Regions from separate parts of the Homo sapiens genome. Here region 2 is linked to region 1. The links come from fine-mapping of genetic effects on gene expression. Tissue or cell type: lung. Region 1 holds a variant in brackets; the other region holds the start of a gene. All regions are shown on one strand. Distances are from middle to middle.

What was found. PIP is the estimated chance that this variant, and not a neighbour inherited with it, causes the effect.
Region 2: it holds the start of PACRG-AS3, and the variant in region 1 is fine-mapped to the expression of PACRG-AS3 in lung (GTEx, PIP 0.96).

Annotation. Positions count from the first base shown.
Region 1 is chr6:163,228,757-163,236,953 of GRCh38, forward strand. The region is part of intron 4 of PACRG (parkin coregulated); the gene reads left to right. Among named protein-coding and RNA genes, the nearest start is that of PACRG-AS3, 41 kb to the left of the region's middle. The variant T/G (reference allele first, on the strand shown) is at 4,471.
Region 2 is chr6:163,188,100-163,196,275 of GRCh38, forward strand. PACRG-AS3 (PACRG antisense RNA 3) reads right to left here and starts at 3,903. Exons shown (of 4, transcript NR_122120.1): 1 at 3,782-3,903; 2 at 2,809-2,883. All of the region lies in intron 4 of PACRG (parkin coregulated), which reads left to right.

The DNA.
Region 1 (8,197 bases):
GATTCTCTAGCACAGTGACCAACATTTGGACACATCACATAAGTCTTAAAGGTCGCAGAATGAGTCTAGTTATATATGTTTTTCCATTCCAGACAGCTTGAAATTTACTGTCTAATTCAAAAGTCCAAAACTATAAAACTCCTGAAAATAATCTTTCCAAATGACCAGTTTACTTTCTCCCTGGACCTGAAAATAGGATGGAAGGGAAGTCTAATTCTGAGAAAGTAGAATCTCCTTCTGATGTTTTGTTTATAAAAATAGTAAACATTTTACTGAACCAGAAAGGGCTAAATTTCATATCTCAATTTAAAAGTATTTGCAGGCCAGGCATAGTGGCTCATACCTGTAGTCCCAATGCTCTGGGAGGCTGAGGCAAGAGGATCACTTGAGTCCAGGAGTTCAAGACCAGCCTAGTCAACATAGTGAGACCCCCGTCTCTACAGAAAAGTAACCAGGGGAGAGGTGGTGCACACCTATGGCACTCAGGGGGCTGGGGCAGGAGGATCACTTTGAGCCCAGGAGTTAGAGGCTGCAGTGAGCAATAATCGTGCCACAGCACTCCAGCCTGGGTGACAGAGTGAGACCTCTGCCTTCTGCCTCTAAAAAAGACAAAACCACCACCACCACCACAACAAAAAATCCAGTATTTGTGATCCCTTTCAAAGCACTGATTCTTCTGCTTCTCAGAGCACTCAGATTGCATCTGATCTTTGCTTGCCAGAATCATCATTTTATGGTTTAGCAAGGAGTTGTCTGCAGGCTTTGCTCCAGTAATGGTTCCAAAGACATTCAGCCACAGCTTGAATAACCTGCACCTGAGCACAAATGTGGCATTCGTAGTCAAGCACCATCGTTCCCCTTCAGTTAGTTAGTCTCGTGACTTTTTTAAGTAGTAATTCCACACCTGTCAAATGCTGTTGGAAGAGACCCTTGAATAGTTCTAGGAGAACCCTCCTCTGGGAAGAAATTTGGGACAGAAGAATTTTTCTTAAGAAGGAAGAAAAGATGGATGAGGAAAGCGCTGACTTCCTCTCATGAGGACCAACAGGCTCCACAATTCCTTTAGCGGCAGTTGTCAGCAAGATGCCCAGAACTGTCTCCAGGCGACAGCAGAGGTCAATTTCAGGTCCACAGAGTCCCACTAACCTCCTATAATTTAGAACCTAATTCAATTGTAACCTGATGGTGAAATTATTCAACAGTTTGCTTCTGGGCATTGAAATAAATAATAAAAAACAGCAAATTTAATACTGCCATTGTTGACATTCTCTACAGTGGCATCAGAAACGCCTCAAAGTCCTATTTACTTCCAAGTGGCCATCTTCATAGTACATTGTCCTTTGTGAAAGCTCTTTGCAAAGAGAATGTACGTCTATATATGTAACATTTGCACCATGCATTACAGTTTTTAAAGAGCTTAGCAAATATGAATCTTCTTTACTACACAGCACTCCTTTAAGATAAAGCATTCAATAACCAATTTTTAATCTCTTCATTGTAGCACAGGTAACTGTGTCCTTATGTTAGGAAATTATGCCCCTTAGAATACCAGTTATTCCAATTTATCAGCCTAAAATGTATATGGAGTACTTACTGTAAGTCTACATGCATAGAATTTTTTAGTGTAATAAAATATTCACTATTTAATGGACAAAACATCCGAAAGAGATCCTACTTTCTCAGAATTAGACTTCCCTTTCCTCCTCCTATTTTAAGTTCCAGGGAGAAAATAAACTAGTTATCTGGAAAGCTTATACTTAGTGGAGTTTTATAGTTTCGACTTTTGAATAGACATTAAATTTCATGCCATCTAGAATGGAAAAACATATATAACTAGACTCATTCCACGGCCTTTAAGACTTATTTGACGTGTCCAAATGTGTCCAACTATGTGTCTATATGTCTGTTTATTGCTGATGGAAACAGCAACAGTAATTCACCTTCAAAATCCCTAAAACGTGGTTGAATAAACAAATGAAGAACGCAGGATGGTGTGTAATGCCGAACTGCTGTAGGTGCAGAGTTAGGGAGGGAAAAACCCGGAAGGTTATCAGAGCCTCCAACATTCAGAAAAGACTTCCTGGAGGAGAGAGGCCTTCAATTAGGCCTCGAAGGACAGTATTTGGAGAGAGAGGAGGAGGTAGGTAAGGTGTCCCTGCCAGTAATTACAGCCTCGTGAAAGAAGCCTGCGGGACAGAAATGAATATGGTATTGAGATGGCAGAGGAGAGAGGTCAAGGGTGCCACAATCTTCAGGCACAACTAAGAAGATCCCTGCAAAGGCAACGGCTCCTCTGGGCCAGCAGAGAAAGTGGAGACCCCAAACAGGGGCTCTCAAGATAGGATGGGGCTGCGGCTGGGAGCGGCACCACCTTTGGGAGGCTGGCAAGGTGGGCAGGCCCACGGGGGAGCCGTGGCTTGCTGGCTGGGGTTTCTCCTGCCAGCAGCACTGGCGTCCTCCAAAATTGCTTCCTGCGGCTTTTCTATTTCTCTTAACTTCATCCACTGTCTTTTCTTATGTCCTGTGACCCACTCACTGCCATGCCACTGAAAATGCTGTTAGAACAAGAAAACAGTAGTCTGTGTCATGTTAATCACATCCTGCTCGAACATGGCCAGAGTTCCCTGCCCATACCCTTTATAAAGCAGTGGACAGTCCCCAGATGGGCTTGCTGGAAGTCTGCACCGGCGCTGCATGCAGGAGAGCCCCGGGCTGCTCTGACCACAGTGACATGCCGGGTTGTCACACCCTGCACGGATGCAGACAATTCCATACAGATGGATCAGCAACTTTGCAGGTCTTCACAACTATGAGCCCAGATCCGCTGAGCCAGGATGCCTCAGCAAAAGGTGACTTCACATAGGGTGGCTTGAAAAGGCAAGCAATCCTGGCTGACTGCATGCCTTCCCCAGGACCAGCACCCACCAGGTGACTCCTTTTACCCTCAACAAACTCCATCTGCCAGTCAGAGCCCCTTATCCATGAGCTTGCATAGTTTCAGAATCACTCTCAACAAGCAGAGATCCATTTGCCTCTCTGAGGTGGGACCATACAGGTGCAAGAGCCTCTCCAGACCACTGGCTGCAGGTTGGCCATGATAAACAGCCTCACCCAAGAATGCTGAGCACGCAGTTACTGTAGGTAAACAAGTCCCGGCTTCACTCTCAGCTGGAGCTGGCACTACGTTGGTATTTATGTAATGCTGCATTGGCAGATATTTCATCTGCAGTATATGTTGAAATGGACAGATAATTATTTAGAACAAATAAAATAAGCTACTTCTGAAGATGACTTGAAGTGGGCACTGACTTGCTGGGACTCTCAGGCCAGCCTCTACCACCCAAGGCAGCTCTCTACAGAACACAAAGGTCCAGCCTAGAAGGGAGTGGCTGAGGTGAGTGCCTCAGGACAAGCCAACACAGTGATGTTCATTCCAGGAATATTTATGATGAAGAGAACCCAGGAGAGCTGAAGATTAGCGTCACACTCTTATAATAGAGAAGAGTTCACCTGCACCAGGTGCCGTGTCCCGCTGGGGCCTGGCTACTCCAGAGGCTCCTCCGCTGCTGCAATGTGCCCGAGCCCCAACCTGCAAGTCCTCCTGGTAGAGTAGCTCTTAGCTCCAGCCTGCGTGTCAGACCAACGCCCACACTTTGTCCACTTCTTACTTTGTTTAGTAAGAAGGGAAGGGAAAAGGAAGAAAAAGAGGAAAGGAGGAACAAAGGAAGAGGAGAAGGAAGAAGGCAGTGCAGTAAGGGAAGGGAAAGGTGGGAAGGTGTGGAAATAAGAAGCAGAGATGAGAAGGGGCAGAGGAAGGTGGCTCTGTGGTCCTGGCCTTGTTCATGGCAAAACACACTTATACTTTGAGGGTGTTCCGCTTCCCTAAGGCACACCGGGGAAGGTCAACAGGTTCCTGTGGACCAGCGAGAAGAGGAGCCCTGTTCAGGAACAGCAGGCAATAGGAAGAGACAAAAGTGATTGATTCCCTGAGGTGCCAGAGCAGGAAGAACAGTCCAGGCATGGCCTGAGAGCAGAGCAAGGTAAAGAGCACGCCTCACCTACCCCCCAGCTCACGCTCCCAGGAGGAGGCCCTGGCCCTGCACAGCCAGCCCCTCCACCCCTCCTCCAGGAGCCTCCACCCCCGAAACCAGCCCTCAGCCCTCTCCCAACTCTGCTCCTCCAGCTGAAATACTGCCCCTCACACCAGGGCCGCATCCCTCTGGGACTACAGCTGGAGTGGCCCTGCCAGTGTAGCAAAGGGCATCTCTGGGGAGGAGATGGTCTCAGCAACTTCAAACACATTTTCTGTTAAGTTTTCTCTTGTATTGTGATGTTACAGAACACGCTCAGCAGGAATTTGTCCCCCAAGAAGTATTCTTTGCTGCAATCCATCTTCAATTCACAATGGGAATAACCTGCTCACTATCCTTTGTATTTTTCTCACCTACTTTCATGTTTTCTACATCTCTG[T/G]TAGGAGATTTAAATTATTTAGGGACAAAGCTGAAGGTGTGTGAATGGATGGATGAAGAGATGGCTGAACTGATTGATGAACAAAAAGTTCACCTGCCAGTAAAAACAGAGGAATGGAGTAGAATGCAGGAGGCCGGAGGCTGCAGGGGCATTTTACAGTTGACCTAGATGGTAATTTGGAGAGAGAGGGAGAGAAATGACACCAGCCTTGAACTTGAGAGATGCCATTTTCTAAATTACCCTGTGTGGCTAAATGACTTTTGCATGCTAGCCCAAAGAAATAACTGCCATGCATTTCACTGTGTGAGAAAACATATTATGAGTTCAAGAAAATAAGAGGAAACATTTTAACATCAAGATGGGAAGGGATAAAGACAGTCCAAGAGGCCGTGGAGGGGGCAGGATACAGCTGTCCACATGAGAAATGGCAGTGACTTCTTTGTGTTAGGGGCAGAGGAGATGGAGAAAATGGAAATATTTGAAAAATATTGAAGACATATAAAGGACAGGTCTTAATAACACAGAATTGTGAGTGAGGAAGTAGGATGAGTAAAAGATAACTTCTGGATTTCTGTTCTGAAAACAAAATTCTGGAAGGGGAAATGGAATGAGGAGCACGTTTGTAGGGAAGGAGGGAAATTGTAAGTTGCACTGTCCTTCATTGTTAAGATTTCACCAAATGAGAGACATTCAAATAGAAATATTCCCTAAATAATAAGACATTTTGTCTTGGGGCTCAATAAGAAATGCCTGGTGGGAAGTAATAGATTTTATTCAGCCATTTAAGAGTGTTCAGGTCTTGGGGGATAACTATCATCATTAAAGGAAGAGTACTCTTGTCATTAATGATGGAGATGGTCCATAGAAAGTGACACAGAGCAGGGACAGAAGATGATCTAGGGTGCAGTTCTGAGTCTCACCCTCTGCTATAGTTTGGGTATGGTTTGGATATAGCTTGTTTGGCGCTGCCAAGTCTCATGTTGAAATTTGATCTGCAATGTTTGAAGTGAGGCCTGGTGGGAGGGTCATGGGGGGTGCAGATCCCTCAGGAATGGCTTGGTGCCATTCTCAGGGGAGTGACTTCTCATGGGAGTGGGTGAGTTCTCACTCTTAGTTCCTGCAGAAACTGGTTGTTGAAAAGAACCTGGCAGCTCCTCCTCTCTTGCTTCCTCTCTGGCCATGTGATCTCTGCACACACCAGCTCCCCTTCGTCTTCCACAATAAATGGAAGCTTCCTGAAGCCCTCACCAGAAGCAGATGCTGGTGCCATGTTTCTTGTATGGCCTGCAGAGCCATGAGCCAAGATAAACCTCTTTTCCTTAAAAATTATCCAGCCTCGGCATTCCTTTATAGCAGCCCCAACAGACTAAAACACCTACATTTAAGGGACAGACGGCTCCCAAAGGAGACCAAGCAGATGTAGCCACAGATGCAGGTCAAAAACCACAGGAGTTTACTTCTATGGGCACCAAAAGAAGAATGTGTTTAAACAAAGAGAGCAGAGTCAAAAATTTCTCTTGGAGGCAAAGTAAAATAAAGGCTGAAAAATGTCCATTGAACTGAGCAACAATGCTGTCTTGGGTAAAGCAGTTTTCATATAGAGGTAAAACAGAAGCCAGATTATAATGGGTAAAAAAATAAATGAGAGTTGAGGAAGAGAGCAAGTACAGGCAACTCTTTTTAAAAAGTTGATTTTGACGAAGGAAAGTGGGGCCAAATGTTGGTAACGTTTTGGGTTAGACAGAGACTTGCTAGTTTTAAGACGAAAAGACACGACTATGTTTAAATGAAGAAAGATATGAGCTCCATGAAACTGAAGGTACAAAAAAGAAAGGCTATAATCTATTGTACAAGGGCCCTGAGGAGGTGGGAAGACATAGCGGAAGAATTTGCCTGAAATGAGAAGGGGCTCACCTCTTCCATCGTAAGCCGGCTGAATGGGAGTTGTGGGCATGACTCGAGCAGTTCAGACGCACCACATTTCCTGCTGCTCTCTAATATCCCCAAACCTGTCATATTTCCCCTTTTGCATGTGACAGTCTAATGATAATCCTGAAGCATATACAGATATATTTCTTCTCCATTGATAAAGCATCATATAATCTTCTGGAGACACAGGCTCCATTAAAATAATTTCTCAATTTCCCCATTGTACGTAACTGCCTTCCATGAAGCTTGCCACTAAAATGTCACTTGACTGAGAGGAGGTGGTGTTGGTGACTAGAAAATGTATGTCTTGAGAGCATGGTGTTCTTTTACTTGTGGAATATGAAATATCTGCTTCCAAATTCCTCAAGGTCCTTCTCCTTGGAGAAGGGGTTTTCCTCTTGCCAGATCATGCCATTCATCCCCTGTGTTAATGTCTATAGACTAGCAAGGAAATGTGCCTAAATTCAACAGCTTGCCAGCACCTAAGAGAAATTATCAGAAATATTGTCCACTTCCTCTTATACATTTCTCTCTGGAAAATTTTTTCAATTTCACAAGGTTTTATCATCTATATTATAGGGATTTGTTTTTAATTCTTCACAATTTCCTTACACTCCTCCAAAGGAATCTTTAACAAGTACAGTTCTCTTTTTCAATTCTGCCCTTGGTGAGTCAATTTATAGTGTGGTTTGATATTTTATTATTGTCAAATATTGCTTATAAGAGAGAGGCTTTGGTTTGGTAACAACTAAACACTAAAAAAGAAAGGAAAAAAGTTGTTTTTTTTGTTTGTTTTTGTTTTTTTAAAGAGAGGCTTTGGGAAAACTGGCAAACTTTCTGCTCTTCCAAAGGTTACTTGTTATATGACTGATCTCCAAGCATTTATTTATCTGAAAAAATCTGTTTGTGATTCTGCCTATGTCAGGGCAGCAATGGCTACAAGATACTTTGAAAGATGGTGGGATATGCCACACAGGGTATGGCATACCCTGTATGAACCTCAGGGTAAATCATGTTAAATAGAACTGTTCTCCTCCCATCTGCCAAAGCACATTTATTTTTCTTCAAACCAAAATGTAGTTTGACCTCCAGGTAGGTTTCCTAAACAACCCTGCCCTTCTCCATTCCTCCTAGTGCCACCTTGAGCTGGCCTTCTTCTGAATACTCTTTCATTTATTGGTAATTGTGACTCACTTATGTATACTTATGCTTTGCTAGCTTCTTTCCCCCTTTGGAAATTAATCTCAGCAGAAACTGAGTTGAATCTCTTCTACGTATTCCTAAGCATAGCTGTCCTTTGAGCACTCCATAAATATTTGTCTACTGACTGGTTGAAGATTTAGTCTCACACAAGTGCAGATGAACTTCATCTCATTTTAGAACTCTGATGGGAAATATGACTGTGTTACACAAGATTCCGGGTCTTTTCCTACCCTCGGGTGAATAAAGAGCCATAATCAATTACAAATGTCTGCTATGGGACTGAAAAGATGGCAAGAAGAGGTGGAGACTGTGCCGCTGTACCAAGAGTTTGCCACTTCGTTTTAGTGGGGCATTGAATGGTTGATTGTATTAGTCCGTTTTCACACTGCTATAAAGAACTACCTGAGACTGGGTAATTTATAAAGAAAAAAGGTTTAATTGACTCATAGTTCTGCAGGCTGTACAGGAGGCATGGCTGGGGAGGCCTCAGGAAACTTACAATCATGGCAAAAGCTGAAGGAGAAGCCAGCTCATCTTACATGGCTTGAGCAGGAGGGAGAGAGCAAAGGGGGAAGTGCTACACACTTTTACAACA
Region 2 (8,176 bases), 41 kb before region 1:
TATCTTTTCCTACAGGGAACTATGTGATCTGTGCAAATAGAGTCCCCACACACAGGACTGGTTTGCATCAGAACATCGGGGAGGCAGGAGCCCCAAGTCAACCATTCTTTGTATAGAAAAAGCTCTCCCAAGTCACTCTTTTCTTTGGCATGTGCATAGTCATCTTTTACCAAATGTTTAGTCAGTATCAAATTCATTTGCTACTGGAAAACCTGTTTTGATGACAGTTGTTGCTAAAAACCTGTACCTGATCAAAATGATTGAGCTTACTAACTCTAAATTAAGGAGTGTCTATTTAAGCCCCCGAAGCTACAGTAGAAAATCTAACGTCATCTCTTAGAGGTGAGCTTGTTAAAATACTGACGTGATGCCTTTGTGAGTCCACCGTCTCCTTTATAAGAATCAGGCCACTGATCCTCAGGCCTGAAGGCTCATCTCTTGGGAAATAGAGGTCACACCAAGGGTTTGGTCCGTGAGTGAGAAGGTCGTCTCCAGCCTAGAAAGGTGAAGACTCTTTGATTCTACAGTTCTAAAGCGTGGCCTGACCGTTTTATTTTAGTGGCCTTTCTCACACTTTGTCTAGTTTCATTTTTGTTACATAATCTGCATAAAAATTCCCTCAGTAGTTACAATTGCAGTTTAGTTCATGTCTGACTTGGTGTGTCGTTCTGTTGTGTTTGAGATCTGAAAAACTGTCGTCATTGCCCATCCAGATAGCATTCAGTAGAGGGGAAAGGATTCCTTTGTACAAAGCAAGCATGGGCTTAGGATATTTCCACATACTATTCATTTGCAGACATTGACTAAGAACAATTAGGAATGTACGCTAGAACGTGAAAAACATCTTTTACATTTGGATCCATCTTGTAAGTGACCAACATACTTTTCTTTGAAAAAATAGAGCCCATACGTTTGTGGCCTAACAAGACATGAGAGGATAATTGATTAAAATGTCAAAGGTGGTTGGGGAATGCTGAGATGGAATGATACTGCAGGAAAGATTTCGCAAAAACAAATTAAAGTGGAAATTACAATTCATGTATAAAGCCCGTTTGTATGATCAAAGCAGGCATCATCTGTACTGCTAAGTTCTACGTATAACATAGTTTTGTTAAAGAAAAGTCAGGCATGAGATGGACATAAGGGATTTGCTGACAAATGCATAACAGCTCTAATGACTAATTTTGGTTTTAGTTAGTGCAATTCTGTAGGTGGACATTTAGCCAGTTTGTTAACAAGGTGTTTTAAGAATGTCTTCCAGGACAATTTAAAAAAAGAGAGAATTATCTTCTCTTACAGAACAATGAAAAACAGAATTATCTTTCAGGGATGGATGTTTATTACATAACCTATTGGAGAATAATGGAAGGGAACTAGATGCCTTATGCCCAGCTTATTCATTATCTGATACCTTTAAAGGCTGAATGGCATTGCCAATTATTCATTGTGGCAGGGGCTGCCATCAATTTTTAGCTTACAGATTGCTAGTTTCTCCCGTGTTCTCTTCCATGAAACAGCAACATACTCCATTTTGTTCTCTATTTAAAAATTTTACATTGCAGCCCTCCAACAAATTAATTCCATTTAGGTTTCTTCGGGAAGAGATACAAATGAGTTTTGTGAAAGTGTACTTAAATGCAGCCATCCAGCCATCAGCATCAACAGGCAGTCAGCTGTGCCCAGTGCCATGCGCCTGATGCCCGTGACTGACAAGGGCCCGCATTCACTGTCCCGGGCTTATGTGAATGCTGACACACTGGTCACCGCAGGGCATACTGCTTGTTGCTGCTTAGTTCATGCTTGCACGGGCAGACCCCCAGGTGGCCTGTCATTTATTTCTATAAGCTAGGTCTGGTAACACCACAAAAGCAGTAACATTCATTTATATGAAGGAGAAGTACATAATCCAAAAATCAGAAAAATTACTTCTGATAGAAGAAACTAGGTTTCAAATGCGGGTCTTAATAATACAACTGGATTCCGATTGCATTACATTGGTTTTCTCTTCCAAATAATTGGCAAATGAGGACAAACAGCTCATCCCCATCCTAACAGGAAGGTCTGAATCTGAAGCCTTACCATCGGTGACTCATTAGGACCCCATTAAGAGCCAGAAAACTTGCCTAAATATAATACAAATCGAATCTTCAATGAGGACTACACATTTGTAAACTAAATTTGAAGTCCCCAAACATTTACAAGTACATTTGTTCTTCATAAGTACAGTCGTAAAGAAAAGCCCAGTCAGTGACAGTCAACCTTGAGCAACGTTGGAATATGAGGTTTGAAAGTGAAAATAGAGGTCGGCGCACAATCTAGTTAGTGCAGAGTTGCATTAGACACAAGTAGTCAGTGACCCCGATGCACGGAGGAAATTCTGAAGGTTCAACATCTGTCTGAAAATAATCGAAAGGCCCTGCCTAGCAGCACAAGGGACTTTCAAGAATGGGCTTTCCTGTAAATTTTGGATTTCTTTTCTTAGAGAAGGTAAAAATGACCTGCTTTCTACTTTTCTTCTGATTGGACTGCAATGGCCAAAAATATTTATAAGAATAAAAGTTAACAAAAACAGTCTAACCCGTCAGTTCAGAACCCTAGTAAAATTTGTTTTGGAGCCTAGAACTAGAATTGGGCAAAAGTGTAGGGCTCTTTCTCTTATACCAAAAAGCCCACTCAAATGTTCTGTGAGCCCGCTCCAAAGATAAAGTCAGAAACAACTTAACAACTTCGTCTTCTTTCACTGATTACTTCCCTCGTGTTCTGTCTATTGCTGATGATGTCCTGACAAACAGCTCCAAGCACACTCACCCAGTGCCCGTGTGCAGCATGCAGACCACTTGTCACCCAATCCATTTCTGAGGGATGACTGTGTTCCTGAAACAACTGAAATCAGAAATCCCTTATTTAGCATTTATTAGAATACTGAATTTAAAATATTACATATTATCATTTGAAAAACAAAACAAACAAACAAAAAACCTGTTACTTAGATTCAAGTTAAAAGAGGGACTATGTATTCACCCTTAGTCCAGGAGAACAGCTTAAAATATGAGCACCTTTTCCTAAGCCATTCCACTTAAATGGACACTAGACCTCAAAATTGCAAACAATAAATACATAAATAAAAGCAATAATTAAAAAACTAACTTCACCATCATCCCTTCCCGCCACCCCCCAAACCTACTTCCTTCCCAGGCTTCAGATGAAATTTCTATGAATGATCCCACCCAGTCTCATTCCTCAGCTCAGTGTCAAGTTCCAGTGTCCTCTGATCTTCCCTTTCTCTGACCCCCACACCTTTATGGCGAGTGGCCCCCCAACGCCACGAGGCCTTTCCCCTTCACTGCTATGGCCGCTTTCTGCACCACCCTTGGGGGAGGTCACAGCCTCTCTGTGACCTAAGCTCTCTCCTCTCTAAAGAGAAGGCATCCACTTAGGTGGTTTATAGGGTTTCTCCTAGCTCAAGGATCTTGAGTGTATCGTTGAGCTAAGATACACTCACGAGCTGAGACCTCCTGACTCAGGCACTGTGGCTGCACTCCACCAGGTGACTTATCTGTGGACCACACTCCACGTGGCCATCTGTGCCTATGCTCTTCCTCCACCCATCCACCAAAATGCCATCTTCTCCACTCCCACTCAGAGCCATGACGTCCCTCTGCCCCCAGGTTGTCCAGGATCCTCTCATCTTCCATTTCCAGCCACCTTTTTTCTCTAAACCCTGTAACACTTCATAGGAGTCCCTCCCAATGAAAGCCACACCCCGCCTGGTGTCTCACACCCCAAAGCAGACTGTAAGCTTCCTGAAGACTGTCCTGCTCCTCAATGTCCCATCCCCTCCCGAACTGACCAGCGGTGCTATCTACGGGGAAGCACCGGGGCAGTTGTTGTTGAATTGATTTCAGTTAATTCAGTTTTTAACTGAATCACACAAAGGATGTCACAAGCTAGCTTTTATAACTAAAGAAAGCACAGTTGTGCAGCTGCCTCCAGAGTCTCTGGGGGTTAGAGGGAATGAAATAGGGAAAGTCCCCAGAAGCCAGCTGACTGCTGCTCAAACCAGGTGCAGGTTGGGAGAAAATCTGTAGTGAATGAAGGAAAATGAAATGCACAGTGGAAAAGAATACCAACATTCTTGCAAAGGAACCTTAAAGTATTATTTTTGCAAAGAATGCAAGGATTATTTCAGTTCCCTTGTTGACTGTTTTGTATGGTCTTCCTACAGATACTTTCAGAAAAAGATCTATTGTTTGTTTTTCTCTGTGCTGACACAGTATCCATTGTTTAGAACTGTAATCATAGCACACATAGTTGAAAATGTGGGCTCGGGGACAAGCTGTATTTTCCCCTCTGGTTCTTTAGACAGTGAATACTGTGTTCTTTATCTCTTATCACAGCTCTTTTGTCAAACATTTAATGATTTTTTCCCCCAGACAAATTTGTAGTTTGTTATCAACCATAAAAATGTCTATTGCCTTATTTTTAAACATTTAAACTTTGGTAAGTGTGTCTCAAGATGAGCATGAATTAAGGTGTTTATTTCATTTTAAATACTTTTTTTTATCATAGCGTACAAAGCTAGAGTTCTCTGACATGGATGGCTTATGTGGATCTCTATTTAGACTTGATGAGAGAACATTTTATTTTTGTACTGTGTGTATTTGCAGGGAAGATGGTTAGGCTGACTGGCTCCCAGGTTGGGTGTGTTGGGAGCATCTGTCAAGGGTTGGACAGGTGCAGACATCTGTGACGTCCTGCAGTAGGCAGCCATCACTCGATTTCCTGCTTAAAAAGATCTGACACACTTCTTCACTCCTTGGATCTCCATTTTTTCCAAATGCCCGATACTTCTTACCATTCTACAACCCTTAAACCGGATCCCAAAGTCTGTGAGAGATAAAAGCCTTTTTTAAACCCAATAAACAGTCACTCTTTGTTGTTCCTGGTTTTAAAATGACAATTTATTGCTTGATACAGACATTTGAAGCCTATAATTCAAATGAATATTTATAAAAATAAATTTCAAGCACACTGGCATGTAACTGCAGGGTAATTTTTAAATATTCATTTTTAAGGTGGTGATAGAGTCTAGAAAAATTTTAATGTGCCACGTTATATTTTATAAATATCCAACTATAGAAATATGCCTTGTGTGCTAATCATTTCCATAAGGCTTCACTTAGATTGAGAGAGTGAAAATGGGTGTCAGTCTTTCAAATATCCAGAGGAAAAACTTTCATTTTGTTTTAAATTTGTTTTTGAGGGCTGAATTTAAACTTAAGACAATGTATGAAGAGTTAAGGTCAGAGTTGGTACTTTCACCACTATTCCATTTGTATTGCTTTAAATTCTCTGATTAAGTGTGGAAAACTATCAACAAGGCGATTGTTCCCAGGGGCTGCCCGGCCAGAAATACCGAGACTGACCATTTTTAAGAACCCAGTGCTATGTGCGGAACAGGGCGGCATGGTGGCCTCCTGAGAACTGGGAGGGAAACACTAAATGAAGACGTGAACACATGGGATTTCTTTCTTTCTTTATTTTTATTAAATAAAAAATATTTTTATTTTGTTATATTGAACTCGACAAATTTTCCTCAGAGATAATTTTTGTTTCAATATTCAAAGTTAGAAATTGTACCAGCCCGTCATAGTTTGAAAGTATTCCTAAAAGTAATTCAAATAAAAATGTATTTTAAATGTAGTACACATTTTAAACATATTGGAGAAAACATAGAATCAGAGACTTTTTCAAATCCATGTTGGACTAGGAAACTGTTTCTTTTTGTTTCTTTTTTTTTTTTTTTTTCCTGAGATGGAGTCTCATTCTGTCACCCAGGCTGGAGTGCAGTGCCGCGATCTCGGCTCAGTGCAACCTCCACCTCCTGGGTTCAAGCGATTCTCCTGCCTCAGCCTCCCGAGTAGCTGGGACTACAGGTGTGGGCCACCAAAGCCGGTTAATTTTTGTATTTTTAGTAGAGACAGGGTTTTGCCATGTTGGCCAGGCTGGTCTCAAACTCCTGACCTCAAGTAAGACTGTTTCTTAATACTAATCAGATTTGACAACAGATGAGGCCATCTGTGATGGAGGTTCTGCGCCCGATTACACATTCCCCTGTAGCTCATAGACTCAGTGCTCCTTTCTACAGAGGAGAGATTCCATAGTCAGTGTTCCTGGGGTTCTGTTTTTACTTTTGAAGTTCCAGAACTTAGTTTCAGTTCTTCCTCTTGATGTCTCTCTTTTGTTCTCTCCCCCTCTCTCCCTCCCTCCCTGTCTTTTCTCCTGTCTCCCTGTCACCCTCCTTCCCTCCTTTCATATCTTTCTTTCTTCATCTTGTTATTTCCATCTGTCTGCCTTTCCCAAGGCAGGAAACCCCGGCGCCTCCAGGCTGGTGGTGTCTGGCTCTGGGCTGCACAAGCCACAGGCCACCTGCCATCAAGCACAGAATGGACTTGACGGGGACCCTGACAGCCAGTCATTCCTGGGACTAGATAGGGTGCAGCCGGGGTGTCCGAGGTGTTTGTAGTCATAGTGGCATACCTACACTGAAGAGGACAGCTTTTTTGTAAGCGGTGGTTGCTTCACTCATCAAAATAGCCTATTTGTGAAGGCATCAATGTGCAAGTATTTTGGAGCAAGTAAAATCAGTCCTGGAGATTAGAACATGCAGGCCTACTGGGCCACAGGAATGGGGCTGCCTGTTGAGACTGGAGTGCAATGCCCCCCAACCCCACGCCTGCTGTTCTTCCCTCTGCTCTTCTCCCTTCCCACCTCCTTCACTCTCCCCTCCTTCCCCACGCCCCTCCCTCCCTTTTGGTCATCAGTGCACTTTGCAGGCATCAGATATTTGGGGCTCTTCAAGTGCCTCCCCTCTACATCGGTGTCCACGGGCTTGCTGAACAGTGAGCCTCTCCTCCCTCCTGGGACTGGTCCTCTTCAACTTGAGCCTTGATCTGGAGTCGATGGTAGAGGGAGTCCACTTCTCTTGACCCCGACTCTCACCATGTCAAAAGGAGGTGATGTTTCCAAAGGTAGCAATTGAAGGAGCCTCTTTATCCCCCCATAACAGAGAAAGCATCGGGGATGCCTTGGCCTCTCAGCCACGCTTTGATGATTGGCATTTGATTGTTCTCACATTTCATTATCGTGAACCACTAATAATGTTGGCTAATTGTTTATTTCATTTATAATTCCTTAAATCTCCATCTAGTCTTGAAGCTGTTGCATCCAAAGAGAGTGCTGCCAAAGAGAAGTTTAACCACAGGTGCCGCCCTGACCACACTTCCAAGACTATCTCCTCATGTGGGTTCTCCTTACATCATACATTTGACCGTGAAACCCATGAAGACAGGCGTCCAATGGAGAGGAGTGTTGGAGGCCTCTTCCCTTTCCACATGGCCCTAGAGCCCAGTGTTTTCAATGTGGTGTGACTCCCTTTTCCAGCGGCGAAATCGTTCCCCCGCTTCCCAGAAGTGTGCTTTAAAGACATTTTGTGATAAGGGAGTGCAGGTAGGAAGGGGTCTAACCTCCCCCAGGGCTCCCTGCGCCTCGGCGGCTGAGGAGGTGGCAGTGGAGGCCGCCCGACCCCCCTCTCAGCCTCCCTGTGCTGCGTTCCCTGCCCTGCCGGGAAATGGAGATTCTGCGCCTAAAGACACACAGTCACGCTGCTTTCAAAGTTTCAGTTCCCACGGCCATTCTAAAATGGCCCCTGGAGAGCTCTGGCTTCCTCCTGCGCCCCTTCCCGCGCCCGCCCCTGGGTGTCTCCGCTGGCTCCCCAGCATCTCCTCCCAGCTCGGGATCTCTCTCACTCATTCCTCCCTCCCTGATTCTCGCCTCCATTCTCCCGCTCTCCAGCAGGGCGCAGCTCCCTCTTGCTCTTTCTGGAGAAGCAGGGATCCCAGAGACCCCCTACGAGCTGGTTCCCTCCCAGACCCCGTCCCTCCAGTCGCTGGCTCAGTTTCCTTCAGTTTCCTCCAGCTCATCTCCTGCCCACCTCAAAAGCAACAGGTCCAAGATCCCAATCAGCATTTCTCGCACAGCGTTTCCGCGAGAACGTTCCCTGATCATCTAGAGTTAGGGAAGTAGAACCGTGCCCTGCACATGATAAGCACATGGAGACTCTAATCAATGAGAGCTACTATGATTGCTGCTCACGGACAGCGCCCAACAGCTCTGT